Regions from separate parts of the Homo sapiens genome. Here region 2 is linked to region 1. The links come from fine-mapping of genetic effects on plasma protein levels. Region 1 holds a variant in brackets. A gene starts in the other region. All regions are shown on one strand. Distances are between the middles of the regions.

Region 1 (8,518 bases):
CCTTTTATTTCAGATTGAAGAACTACCTTTCACATTTCTTATAGGACAAGTCTGGTGTTGATGCAATCCCTCAGTTTTTGTTTATCTGAGAAGGTCTTTATTTCTCCTTCATGCTTAAAGGATATTTTCAGTGAATATACTATTCCAGGGTAAAAAATTTTTTTTCCTGTCAGTACTGCAAATATTTCATATCAGTCTCTCTTGGCCTATAAGATTTCCACTGAAAAATCTGCCACCTGAGACAGAGTCTTGCTCTGTTACCCAGACTGGAGTGCAGTGGCGTGATCTTGGCTCACTGCAACTTCTGCTTCTCAGGTTCAAGTGATTCTTGTGGTTTAGGCTCCCGAGCAGCTGGGATTACAGGTGTGTGCCATCACATCTGGCTGATTTTTATATTTTTAGGTGAGATGAGGTTTTTCCACGTTGGCCAGGCTGGTCTTGAAATCCTGGTCTCAAGTGATCTGCCCACCTCTGCCTCCCAAAGTGCTGAGATTACAGGTGTGAGCCACTACGCCTCGCCAGGATCCTTTCTTTGTACTTGACCTTTGGTAGTTTGATTATTAAATGCCATGAGGTAGTCTGACGTGAGTTAAATCTGCTTGGTGTTCTATAACCTTTTTGCACTTGAATGTTGAAATATTTTTGATATTATTCCTTTGAATAAACTTTCTACCCTTATCTCTTTCTCTGCCTCCTCTTTAAGGCCAATAAAACTCCTATATTTGCCGTTTTGAGGCTGTTTTCTAGATCTTGTAAGCATGCTTTCATTGTTTTTCATTCTCTCTCCTTTGTGTCCTCTGTATTTTCAAATAGCCTGTCTTCAAGCTCAGTAATTCTTTCTTATACTTGATCAGTTCTGCTATTAAGAGACTCCGATGCATTCTTCAGCGTGTCCGTTCCATTTTTTTAACTCTAGAATTTCTGCTTGATTCTTTCTAATTATTTTGATCTCTTTGTTAAATTTATCTGATGGAATTCTGAATTCCTTCTCTGTGTTACCTTGAATTTCTTTGAGTTTCCTCAACACAGCTATTTTGAATTCTGTATCTGAAAGGTCATATATCTCTGGTTCTCCAGGATTGGAACCTGGTGCCTTATTTAATTCATTTGGTTAGGTCATGTTTTCTTGGGTGGTGGTGATGTGTGTAGATGTTTGTTGGTATCAGAGCATTGAAGAGTTAGATACTTACTGTAATCTTCACACTCTGGGTTTGTTTGTGCATGTCCTTCTTTGGAAAGCTTTCCAGGTATTCCACGGGACTTGGGCCCAAAGTCCAGTAATTCTGTGATTTTTGCAGACTCTTAAAAGTACCACCTTGGTGGTCTTGGATAAGATCCAGAAGAATTCTCTAGATTACCAGGCAGAGACTCTTGTTCTTTTCCCTTACTTTCTTCCAAACAAATGGTCTCTCTCTCTGTGCTGAGCCACCTGGAACTGGAGGTGTGGTGATGCAAGTACCTTTATGGCCATCACCACGGAACTGTGCTGGGTCAAGCCTGAAGCCAACATGGCACTGGGCCTTGCCCAAGGCCCTTTCCTTCATGGTGGCGAGTTCCCCCAGATCCTGGGTGTGTCCAGAGATGGTGTCTAGAAGCCAGGGAATGGAGTAAAAAACCCTAGCAATTTACCTGATGTTCAGTTTTACTGTGGCTAAGCTGACACTCAAATCACAATACAAAAGCCTTCCTGCTCTTCACTCCTCTTTCCACAGGCAGAGGACCCTCTCCCTGTGGCCATTACTACCACCATCTCTGGTCCACATGGGGTTCTGCCAGCCACTGCTGATATTTACTGAAAGCCCAAGGGCTTTTCTGTCACCTTGCGGTAAATGCTGCCAGGCCTTTACCCTTCAGGGAAGTGGGCTCCCCTCTGGCCCAAGGCGAGTCCAGAAATGCTGTCCAAGAGCCAAGGCCTGGACTCAGGGACTCCAAAAGACTGCTTGTTGGTCTACCCCATTGTGGCTGAGCTGGTACCTAGGGTGCAAGACAAAAATCGCCTTTACTTTCCCTCTGCTTTCCTCAAACAGGGGTCTCTCGCCATAGCCACTACAGCTGGGAATGTGCTGGGTCACCCCGAAGCCAGCATGTCTCAGTCCAAGACCCACAGCATACTCCATGGGTCTTGCCGCTGATTATTCAGGGCCCAGGGGCTCTTTACTTAGCAAGTGATGAAGCCTGCCAGGACTGCTCCCTTAAGGCAGCAGTTTCCTTTTGGGCCAGCAGGGTATGTCTAGAAATGTCACCTGGGAGCTAGGGCCTGGAATCAGGTCCTCACAACTCTGCCTGGTGTCCTATCCTACTATGGCTTAGCTGGTATCCAAGATGCAAAACAAAGCCCTCTTTACTTTTTCCTCTCCTTTCCTCAAGAAAGGAGTCACTTTCATAGCCACAAGCTGCACTGCCTGAGGTTGGGGGAGGGGTAGCACAAGCGTTCCCTTAGCCTCACCAGCTGGTATCTCCCCTGGTCACCTGCTACCCTAGTTCACTGGCTCTAAGCCCAGCCTAGCACTAGGAGTTGCCTAGGAATTACAGTCCTCCTTTCCTAGACTGCCTTTCAAGTTTACCTAGGACCCCAGAGCACTTCAGCCCGCATGGTGAGGCCTGCCAGGAAATTCAGTGCCCATTGCTGGGATGGGTGATTCTCCTCTGGCTAGGGCTGCTTCAAATGCTCCTATGCATGGGCAGTGGTGGAGCCCAGCACAGCTTTATTCTCTGCTGTGACAGGGCAGCACTGAGTTCAATGTAAAGTCCCCCAGTCGCTATGCTCCCTCCCCAGAGGGCACAGACTCTCTGTGCTGCAGGTCTGCCACGAGGGAATGGGAGAGAGGTGGCATAGGTGATTCAAGACTGTCTCTTTTGCCCTTCTCAGTGTCTTTGCAGGTGATATGAAGTTGAAACCAGGTACTGTGAGTGCTCACCTGATGTTTGCTTCTTGTGCTTTTCTGTGTGCAGACAGCTGTTAAAATTTCATGTTTCAGTGAGGGTTGGGGGGAATGACAAATTTTATTTCTCTTCCCACGTTCTCTTTGCCTCTTCTACCCAGTTCTCACTCTTTGCCTTTAGTTGTCAATCCCAGAAGAGAATCTCTTGAGTTTTTCTTCCTGTTTTTCCTTTTGTTCAAATGAGTACATAAATATATATTACTTATTTCCCCTTCCTTCTTACCTCCAAAGGCGTAATCCTATAGATACTCTTTTATACTTTGCTAACCATAGAATTTTAAAGCTAAATCAGACTTTATTGTTGTAGTTTTGAGATTATTCTTTCCTCATTTTTTTTCTTTTAGACATTAGAT[C/G]AGCAACAGTTCTTCACAGAGGAAGAACTAAAAGAATATGAAAATATTATTGCTTTACAAGAAAATGAACTTAAGAAGAAGGCAGATGAGCTTCAGAAACAAAAAGAAGAGCTACAACGTCAGCATGATCAACTGGAGGCTCAGAAGCTGGAATATCATCAGGTGGCATTTTGTCAAAAGATTATGGCATTAAAAAGATTTTAGGTGCTTTGTTAAAAGCCTGTGTTTTTGTAACATATTTCATTGTACTATATAGTACACTGCTATAGCTATACTATAGTATTTTAAATTTTAATACTTTAAAACTGTTTTGTGGAATATTAATCTAAATTTTATTTTATTTCATTTTATTTTATTTTGAGACAGCCTGTCTCCCAGGCTGGAGTATAGTGCTGTGATCATAGCTCACTGCAGCCTCAAACTCCTGGGCTCAAGTGATCCTCCCACCTCAGCCTCCCCAGTAGCTAGGACTACAGGTGCATGCCAGTGTTCCTGGCTAATGTTAATATTTTTTGTAGAGACCAGGTCTCATTGTGTTGCCGAGGCTGGTCTCGAACTCCTGGCCTTAAGTGATCTTCCCACCTGGGCCTCTGAAATTGTTGGGACTATAGGCGTGAGCCACTGCACCTAGTCAAATCTAAATCTTATAGTTTGAATATCTTTGTTTTAGAAAACAATTTTCATTTACTTTGTTGTGCTTTGTCAAAGGTCACACATATGATAGAAAATCAAGTTATACTTTTAACTTTCATTTTCCATTCACCAGGTCATACAGCAGATGGAACAAAAAAAATTACAACAAGGAATTCCTCCATCAGGGCCAGCTGGAGAATTGAAGTTTGAGCCACGTGTGTAATTTTGTTTGATTATTTATTTAGGAAAATAAATTATTTTATCAATTGAAATCCACATTTATTACAAATATAATTTCAAATCATTAAGATGTTATGTTATTTTTTGTGTATTTTTTGTGGTATTAGAGCAATTTAGATTATAGAAAAATGAAAATGCCTCCAAAAGTTTTATGTAGCAGCAAATTTTAAGTGCTGTATCATTTGTATAATTTGATAACCATATTTATGGTAAAATGATTTATTTCAACTTTATTTGTAATTCTTTCTAATTATATTAATCTTACCAGAGAATATGTTTTTTAAAATTGTGATCTATGATTAGCTAAGCATATTTTTTAAAACAAGTATATTTGTATATGAAGGAACATTTAGAATAAAGGAAGATACTTTTAAAATAAGAACTTTTTTCTTTTTTCCAACAGACATTTAAAGTCTGAAGTCCACCAGAACTTGGAAGAAAGCTGTTAACTCAACATCTATTTCATCTTTTTAGCTCCCTTCCTTTTTCTCTGCTCAATAAATATTTTAAAAGCATATTTGAAATAAAGGGAGATACTTTTTAAATGAAAACACTTTTTTTGGGACACAGATATTAAAGGATTGAAGTTTATCAGAACCAGGAAGAAAACAAACTCACTGTCTGCTCTCTGCTCTCACATTCACACGGCTCTTTTATTTATTTTTTTGTTCTCCTTTAATGATTTAATTAAGTGGCTTTATGCCATAATTTAGTGAAACTATTAGGAACTATTTAAGTGAGAAAACTCTGCCTCTTGCTTTTAAATTAGATTGCTCTCACTTACTCGTAAACATAGGTATTCTTTTATGGGTGCTTATCATTCCTTCTTTCAATAAATGTCTGTTTGATATTAACAATTCTGGAAAGGCCACAGTATTTCCCTGTGTTTCCTGGTAACGTTTTTCTAGTTTTGGCAACCTCAACTGCTAGAAATTCTTCACCTGAATCACTTTTGCTACCACTTCAGGTCATTTTTCATTCTTTTTTATTTTGCTCTATACTTTATCATTTAAGATTAGGTTATGTTACATATAACAGAAAAAACAAAGATAACAGTGGTTTAAACTAAATAGGAGTTTTTCTTCTTACATAAGTCTAGAAGTAGGTGGTGTCCAGGTTCCTATCTTTCTGCTCTGCTATCCTCAGTGCATGATTTTTATCCTCAGATTACCTCACTCTCACTGTTCAAGTTTGCTCCTGGAGGCAGTGGGGAAGGCAAGAAAACTGGACTTTCTCTGCTTGAGTTAGCTTCCCTGAGGCCATTTTCCAGAACCAGCAGCACCTGAACTTATGTTTCGACCAGAACTGGGTCACACTGATGGCCACACCTAGCTGCTAGGGAGGCTGAGAAGTCAATGTGGCAATGTGACCAGCTAAAAGTTGGATTCTTTTACTAAGGAAGAAGGGAAGAGGGAATGTTTGGTAGGCAACTTTGGATTTTAAACTCAGCCAGCCTTGTTGGCTACCTAAATTCTGTGTACCTTCTTCTTCCGAGAGAGAAAACACTCACCCCTCTCTCCCTGAAGAGAAACCACCAGAAATCCAGCCCATTATTGCATACTAGATGAAAGACCATGCTATCTGGAGACAGTCCCCTCCATCATGTTAGGGTGTGGCTCCTTGTGTTCTGGCCACCTACAAACTGAAAGACAAGTTTTCTGCCCTGAGAGCACCAGATGCATAATGCAAAGGTGCAGGAAAACTGACCTTTTAAATTTTTTAGAGACAGGGTCTTACTCTGTTGTCCAGTCTAGAGTACAGTGGTGTGATCATAGCTTACTGCAGCCTTGAACTTCTGGGCTCAAGTGATCCTTCCACCTCAGTCCCCCTAGTAGCTAGGACTACAGGCACATGCCACGAACGCCTGGCTAAACATTTTTTTTTGTAGAGATGGAGTATTGCTATGTTGCTCAGGCTGGTCTTAAACTCCTGGTCTCAAGCAATCTTCTCACCTCAGCCTCCCAAAGCACTGGGATCACTGGTGTGAGCCACCATGCCCAAGATCCCTAAAATTGACCTTTTAGAAAAAGGGAGAAATAGAAATATAGTGGCCACTGATCCATAGCAATTTGAAAGTACCACTTGGCAAAAATAATTAAATCTCTCTGCTATAGTTCATGAATATATTCCTTGGTTTGCCTATCAGGCAACCCCTGATTCACCTTTCTGAGAGGAATTCCTTTACCTAATGTCCTCAGGGGGCCTTGGTTTTACTTTCTTGGAGGTTTTTATTGTACATTAATTTTCAGACACAATCTGAATGGGCATTGGAAAGTATACCCTTCTTGGAGGCTGGGCAGCCTTAGCAGTTTACTTCCTATAATTGTGAGTCTGGGGGCAGGCTTGGGAATTAGAGTATAGATCCGTAACAGCTACAGTCTATTGCAGGCCAGGTTTGGGTTTTTGTTGTTGTTTTGTTCTGTTTCTTGGCCAAGTGGATTCCTAAAACTTTAGTAAGTTTCTGGTCTGTTGTCTTCAGTCATTTACATGGACAGTATTAACCAAGGTAAAATACATTGTTTTTAACAAAGAACCTCATCATTTACTTGCTGGCCTCTGTGTGCTCTCCATCCCCTTTGTTCTTACAGGAATGGTACCTCCTTGAGATCCTTTGAGACTGTAGGCTTGCATGGAATGGCAACAGTCTTAATCTGATCTCTTCCCCTAGGATGGCTCCTATTATTTGGCAGAAAATTCTTAAGGGAAGGTTCTTAAAAAAGGTTGAGAAAGTTTTAGTAGCTCCCTCAGAGCCTTTACTTATAAATGTTTCAGTTTGGAGTACAGTTTTCAATTCTTCAGGGCTCCAGATTTGGGACTTGGTCAATTTATATGGTAGACAAAGAGCAATTCTCTCAGCAAAGCTATTTTTCCCTTGCGTCACTGCAGACTTGTTAATCTTAGTCCAAGTCACATATCTCTTGTAGGGCTTTGCTGAAAAGAGGCAAGAAGCAGCCAACACATGCTAGCACTCTGAAGTTCTACCACCTTCGTCTCTGTGGCAGGAAGTCTCAACCTCACCTTGACTTCTGTTGGCAAGAAGTCTCACTGCCCAAAGCCCTACCTCCTCAACTAAGCCAACCCCAGATTTAGGGCCTTCGACTTGCTGTGCTTTACTTCTAGCTGCCAAATTCTGTATAGGTCAAGATTCTTGGCTGTAAGCAATGAAATCTTCTTTAGCTATTAAACAGAAGGGAATTGATGAATGAGTATATATAGGTCACAGAATCAATGGGAGGGTTGAAGAAACAGATCTAGGCTGAGCTTCTAGGAATTATGTCACAAGAGTAGGCTGCTGAAAGAGCTGCTGCTTTTAGAACAATCAAGAAGCTGCCTGCTGGATTAGGAAGCTGCCTGCTGAACAGTTGCCAGTTCCAGAGCCACACCACCTCTGCCATGCTTTATGCCAGCAAAAATAGATACATCTCTTCCTGCCTCTGTCCCCACGTTACTTGGCTCTGAGTAAAAGTCTCAAGTGAGTGAATCTGATGGACTGGACCAATCATATCTGAAACCCTAGCTGCAAAGGAGGTTGGGAAATATAATGTTCAACTTTCCTACCTCTGTGTGACAGGAATGCATGTTAAAAGCTACCCTAGGCCGGGCATGGTGGCTCACGCCTATAATCCCAGCACTTTGGGAAGCCAAGGTGAGTGGATCACCTGAGGTTAGGAGTTCCAGACCAGCCTGGCCAACATGGTGAAACCCCATCTCTACTAAAAATACAAAAATTAGCTGGGTGTGATGGTGCACACCTATAGTCCCAGCTACTCAAGAGGCTGGGGCAGGAGAATTGCTTGAGCCTGGGAGGTGGAGGTTGCAGTGAGCTGAAATCATGCCACTGCAATCCAGCCTGAGCCACAGAGCAAGGCTCTATCTCAAAAAAAAAAAAAAAAGGCTACCCTAGCACCTCACAAGTTTACATTGTTTCACTTAATAATTTTTAAACTGTTAGTCCTTATTTTATAAATTTTTAGATGATCATTGCATATTCCTCCAAACATACTTAAATAATGGATCCCAAAATTAAATATAGCAGTTTAGAAAAGTTATATACAGCTTTAAAAACCCTACAAAAACCACTCAATGTAGTAATAGTGCTTGCTATTTTTTTTAAGAAATGGAATAGAATCTCTATTGCTTAAATTATAAGCAATAGAATATCTCTATTGCTTAAATTATAAGCAATATGGAAAAATGGTTTGGAATATCCTTTTGTTGATGACTACTATCTGTGACATGAAACTGATAAGACATTCTTTTGGGTAAACGTTTTTAGATGGTAAACTGTGGTTAAATCGAATTAATTGGAAGACATAGAGTAATTTCTTGAAATGCTTTTTTGGCTCAAGT
Region 2 (3,467 bases), 47 Mb after region 1:
AAGTACTGGGATTACAGGTGAGAGCTACCGCGCCTGGCCACAAAGCCGATTTTCTATAGCAGATACCTAAAGGCCAGTGCCCACTGCTAGCAGCCTGCCTAGTTCAGTGATGGAGTTAGACGCATACCCTTTCTAGTCTTCTGGGAGGAGCACCCCCATGTCCACAGCTGCTGTCACACCTCAAAGTGACCAGGGACTTCGGATGCCATTGGACCCTAGACAAGCCAGGGCCACTCTGAGCCCTCCCTATCTATCACAGGAAGGGTTAGACTGAGGTTCCTAACCCTGTGTAAGGGTAAAAAGCTGTGAGGCCCCTAGAGTGGGGTGGAAGGGGGCAGGACTTCAGGGACAGCAGGAATTGGATTCCCAGGGTTAATTGTGACCCATTGCAGGAAGGTGAAGCAGATGCACCTTAACTTCATGGATGAAAAGGATCGGATCATCACAGCCTTCTACAACGAAGCCCGGGCACGGGCCAGGTCTGTCCCTGCTCTATTCTGCTCCCTGCTCCCTGTCCAGGAACCACACTTCGGGATCCCTATCCCAACCACCCAGGTGCCCTCTCCTCCAGGGCCAACAGAGGCATCCTTCAGCAGGAGCGACAACGGCTAGGGCAGCGGCAGCCGCCACCATCCGAGCCAACCCAAGGCCCCGAGATCGTGCCCCGGGGCGCCGGCCCCTGAGGGGCTCACCTGGATGGGGCCTGCAGTGCGTTCCCGCTTTGCTTCCTTCCCTGGACGGCCCGCTCCCCGAAACGCGCGCAATAAAGTGATTCGCAGAGCTCGTGTCCGGCTCCCTCCTTAAGGCCCGACGCCCCCGGCCCCGGCCTCGCCAAGGGGCAGCGCCCCGCCCTCCGGGTAGTGGCGGCGGCGACTGGGGAGCCCAGCCTCCTGGGCGGTGCGTCCCCTTTCCCCTGCCGCGGCGGGAGGCGGGAGGGGGTGTGTGGAGGAGGCGGGCCCCGCCGACGGCCTCGCCCCCCCACCCCGCCGCCCCGCCCCCGCCCCACGGGCCGGTGGGGAGCGCGTGTCTGGGTCACATGAGCCGCCTGCCCGCCAGCCCGGGCCCAGCCCCCCGCCGCCCCCGCCGTCCCCGCCGCCGCTGCCCGCCGCCACCGGCCGCCCGCCCGCCCGGCTCCTCCGGCCGCCTCCGCTGCGCTGCGCTGCGCTGCCTGCACCCAGGGCTCGGGAGGGGGCCGCGGAGGAGTCGCCCCCCGCGCCCGGCCCCCGCCCGCCGCGCCCGGGCCCGCGCCATGGGGCTCTGGCTGTCGCCGCCCCCCGCGCCGCCGGGCTAGGGCGATGCGGGCGCCCCCGGCGGGCGGCCCCGGCGGGCACCATGAGCCCTCTGCTCCGCCGCCTGCTGCTCGCCGCACTCCTGCAGCTGGCCCCCGCCCAGGTACGTGCGGCCCGACAGCGCGCCCGCCCGCCCGCCGTGCCCTCTCTCAAGGTTGGCGGAAGTGAGGAGGCGACCCGCGGCCTCGGCCGAGGGGATCTGCGGGGTCCGGCCTTGGACGCGGGCGTCTCGGGGGCCCGGCGCGTGCATCCCCTGGGAGGTGCCCCTCCCCGCTGGCCCGCCAGCCCCAGTCTGGGGCCACTCCTCCGCCCCACCCCGTCCCCTGGGCACCGCCGGGGGCGGGGCTCCCTCGGTGCCTGCAGGACCTGCTTCGGTGGGCACTGTGCGCGCTCCTGATCTGCATGCAGCCCCCAAACATGCTCGGCTCCGCGGCCTGGAGATTTGGCGCGGCCACCAGAGCACCTGTTGCGTTTTGGGCCAGGGCAGGTCCCGGGTGGCCAGGAGAGGACAGGTAAAGCTAGAGCAGTGGCCGCAGGAACAGAGCAATCTGGAAAGATGTCAGAGAGGTGGTGAAGCCTACTGATGCAAGGGCAAAGCCCCAGGGACGGTGACAGGGCCACACCCTCCTAAAGTGTACCTTGGGTACAGGTCTTTTCTCTCCCACAGGCCCCTGTCTCCCAGCCTGATGCCCCTGGCCACCAGAGGAAAGGTAATACTTACAAAAACTCGGCACTAGCCAGCACTAAGAGGGTTTGTCATGGGCCCTGATTCCAGGTGTCCATCATCTTGTGTAACTCCCCTAGAAGATTCAAACTATTATTCTACCCATTTCACAGAGGAGGAAATTGAGGCAGTGGGGTTACTGGGATCTGGATAAACAGGGCAGGGGAAGACAGGTTGTGAGGGCAGAGTGGGGAGGGCTAGTGGAGGGTGGCTGTGACTTGGGGACTGGGGAGGACAGATGCTGGGAGCAGCTGCAGGAAAACCAGTGAGGACTTAACCCCTACCGGTCTGCTCCCAGTGGTGTCATGGATAGATGTGTATACTCGCGCTACCTGCCAGCCCCGGGAGGTGGTGGTGCCCTTGACTGTGGAGCTCATGGGCACCGTGGCCAAACAGCTGGTGCCCAGCTGCGTGACTGTGCAGCGCTGTGGTGGCTGCTGCCCTGACGATGGCCTGGAGTGTGTGCCCACTGGGCAGCACCAAGTCCGGATGCAGGTACTGGGCAGGTGGGGCAACGGGCAGGGGATGCAGGTACTGGGCAGGTGGGGCAGCGGGCAGGGTGGATGCTGGCTGGCTCTGGGGCTGGGGCAGCCTGGAGACTGATGCACAGGAGACAGGGTTGGGGGGAGGGCTGGTGGCCAGCCTCCCGGCTGTTGGGTGAGCTTTTCTCCCTTCAGTCTTAGAGCATCCCCTTTCTCTCTCTCCCTCACTGTCCCCCCTGTTCTTCTCCTGAGCACAGATCCTCATGATCCGGTACCCGAGCAGTCAGCTGGGGGAGATGTCCCTGGAAGAACACAGCCAGTGTGAATGCAGGTGCCAGCCAGGCCCAACTTCTGAGCTCGCAGAGGCCAGGCTTGGGGGGTGCTGGGTATGGTGGTCCACAGAACTGGGGACCAGGTTCCTAAGAGTAGAACCAAGGGGCCGGGCGTGGTAGCTCACGCCTGTAATCCCAGCACTTTGGGAGGCCGAGGCGGGCGGATCATGAGGTCAGGAGATCGAGACCATCCTGGCTAACATGGTAAAAACCTGTCTCTACTAAAAAAATACAAAAAATTAGCCGGGCGTGGTGGCGGGCACCTGTAGTCCCAGCTACTCCGGAGGCTGAGGCAGGAGAATGGCATGAACCTGGGAGGCGTAGCTTGCAGTGAGCCAAGATCGTGCCACTGCATTCCAGCCTGGGCGACAGAGCAAGACTCTGCCACAAAAAAAAAAAAAAAAAAAAAAAAAAAAGAGTAGAGCCAAGGGTAGGCCTTGGATCTGGGGCAACAAAGTAGGATGCTTGGGCCGGGGGTAGTGGCTCACACCTATAATCCCAGCACTTTGGGAGGCCCAGGCAGGCAGATCACCTGAGGTAAGGCGTTTGAGACCAGCCTGGCCAACATGGTGAAACCCCATCTCTACTAAAAAAAAATACAAAAATTAGCCGCGCATGGTGGCAGGTGCCTGTAATCCCA

Direction of the effects. Positions count from the first base shown, and alleles are read on the strand shown. Strength reflects both the effect of a copy and how common the allele is.
With allele C in place of G in region 1, the plasma level of the protein whose gene starts at base 1,083 in region 2 is higher (weak association).

The links. A credible set is the group of variants that fine-mapping cannot tell apart. PIP is the chance, under the fine-mapping model, that this variant and not a neighbour inherited with it causes the effect. The UK Biobank Pharma Proteomics Project read protein levels with antibody pairs (Olink). The fine-mapping took linkage between variants from a reference panel, not from the people measured, so its PIPs are less certain.
Region 2: VEGFB starts here. The variant in region 1 is the best candidate, but not a certain one, in a credible set for the plasma level of the VEGFB protein (UK Biobank, PIP 0.81).

The regions. Positions count from the first base shown.
Region 1 is chr11:17,326,841-17,335,358 of GRCh38, forward strand. NUCB2 (nucleobindin 2) reads left to right here. Exons shown (of 14, transcript NM_005013.4): 12 at 3,287-3,457; 13 at 4,062-4,143; 14 at 4,572-5,371. The coding sequence ends at 4,579. Among named protein-coding and RNA genes, the nearest start is that of NCR3LG1, 21 kb to the right of the region's middle. The variant C/G (reference allele first, on the strand shown) is at 3,296.
Region 2 is chr11:64,233,502-64,236,968 of GRCh38, forward strand. It overlaps VEGFB (vascular endothelial growth factor B), which reads left to right and starts at 1,083. Exons shown (of 7, transcript NM_003377.5): 1 at 1,083-1,392; 2 at 1,957-1,999; 3 at 2,312-2,508; 4 at 2,753-2,826. The coding sequence starts at 1,333. It overlaps DNAJC4 (DnaJ heat shock protein family (Hsp40) member C4), which reads left to right. Exons shown (of 6, transcript NM_005528.4): 5 at 393-479; 6 at 572-780. The coding sequence ends at 683. RefSeq lists silencers at 631-1,120, 1,341-1,710.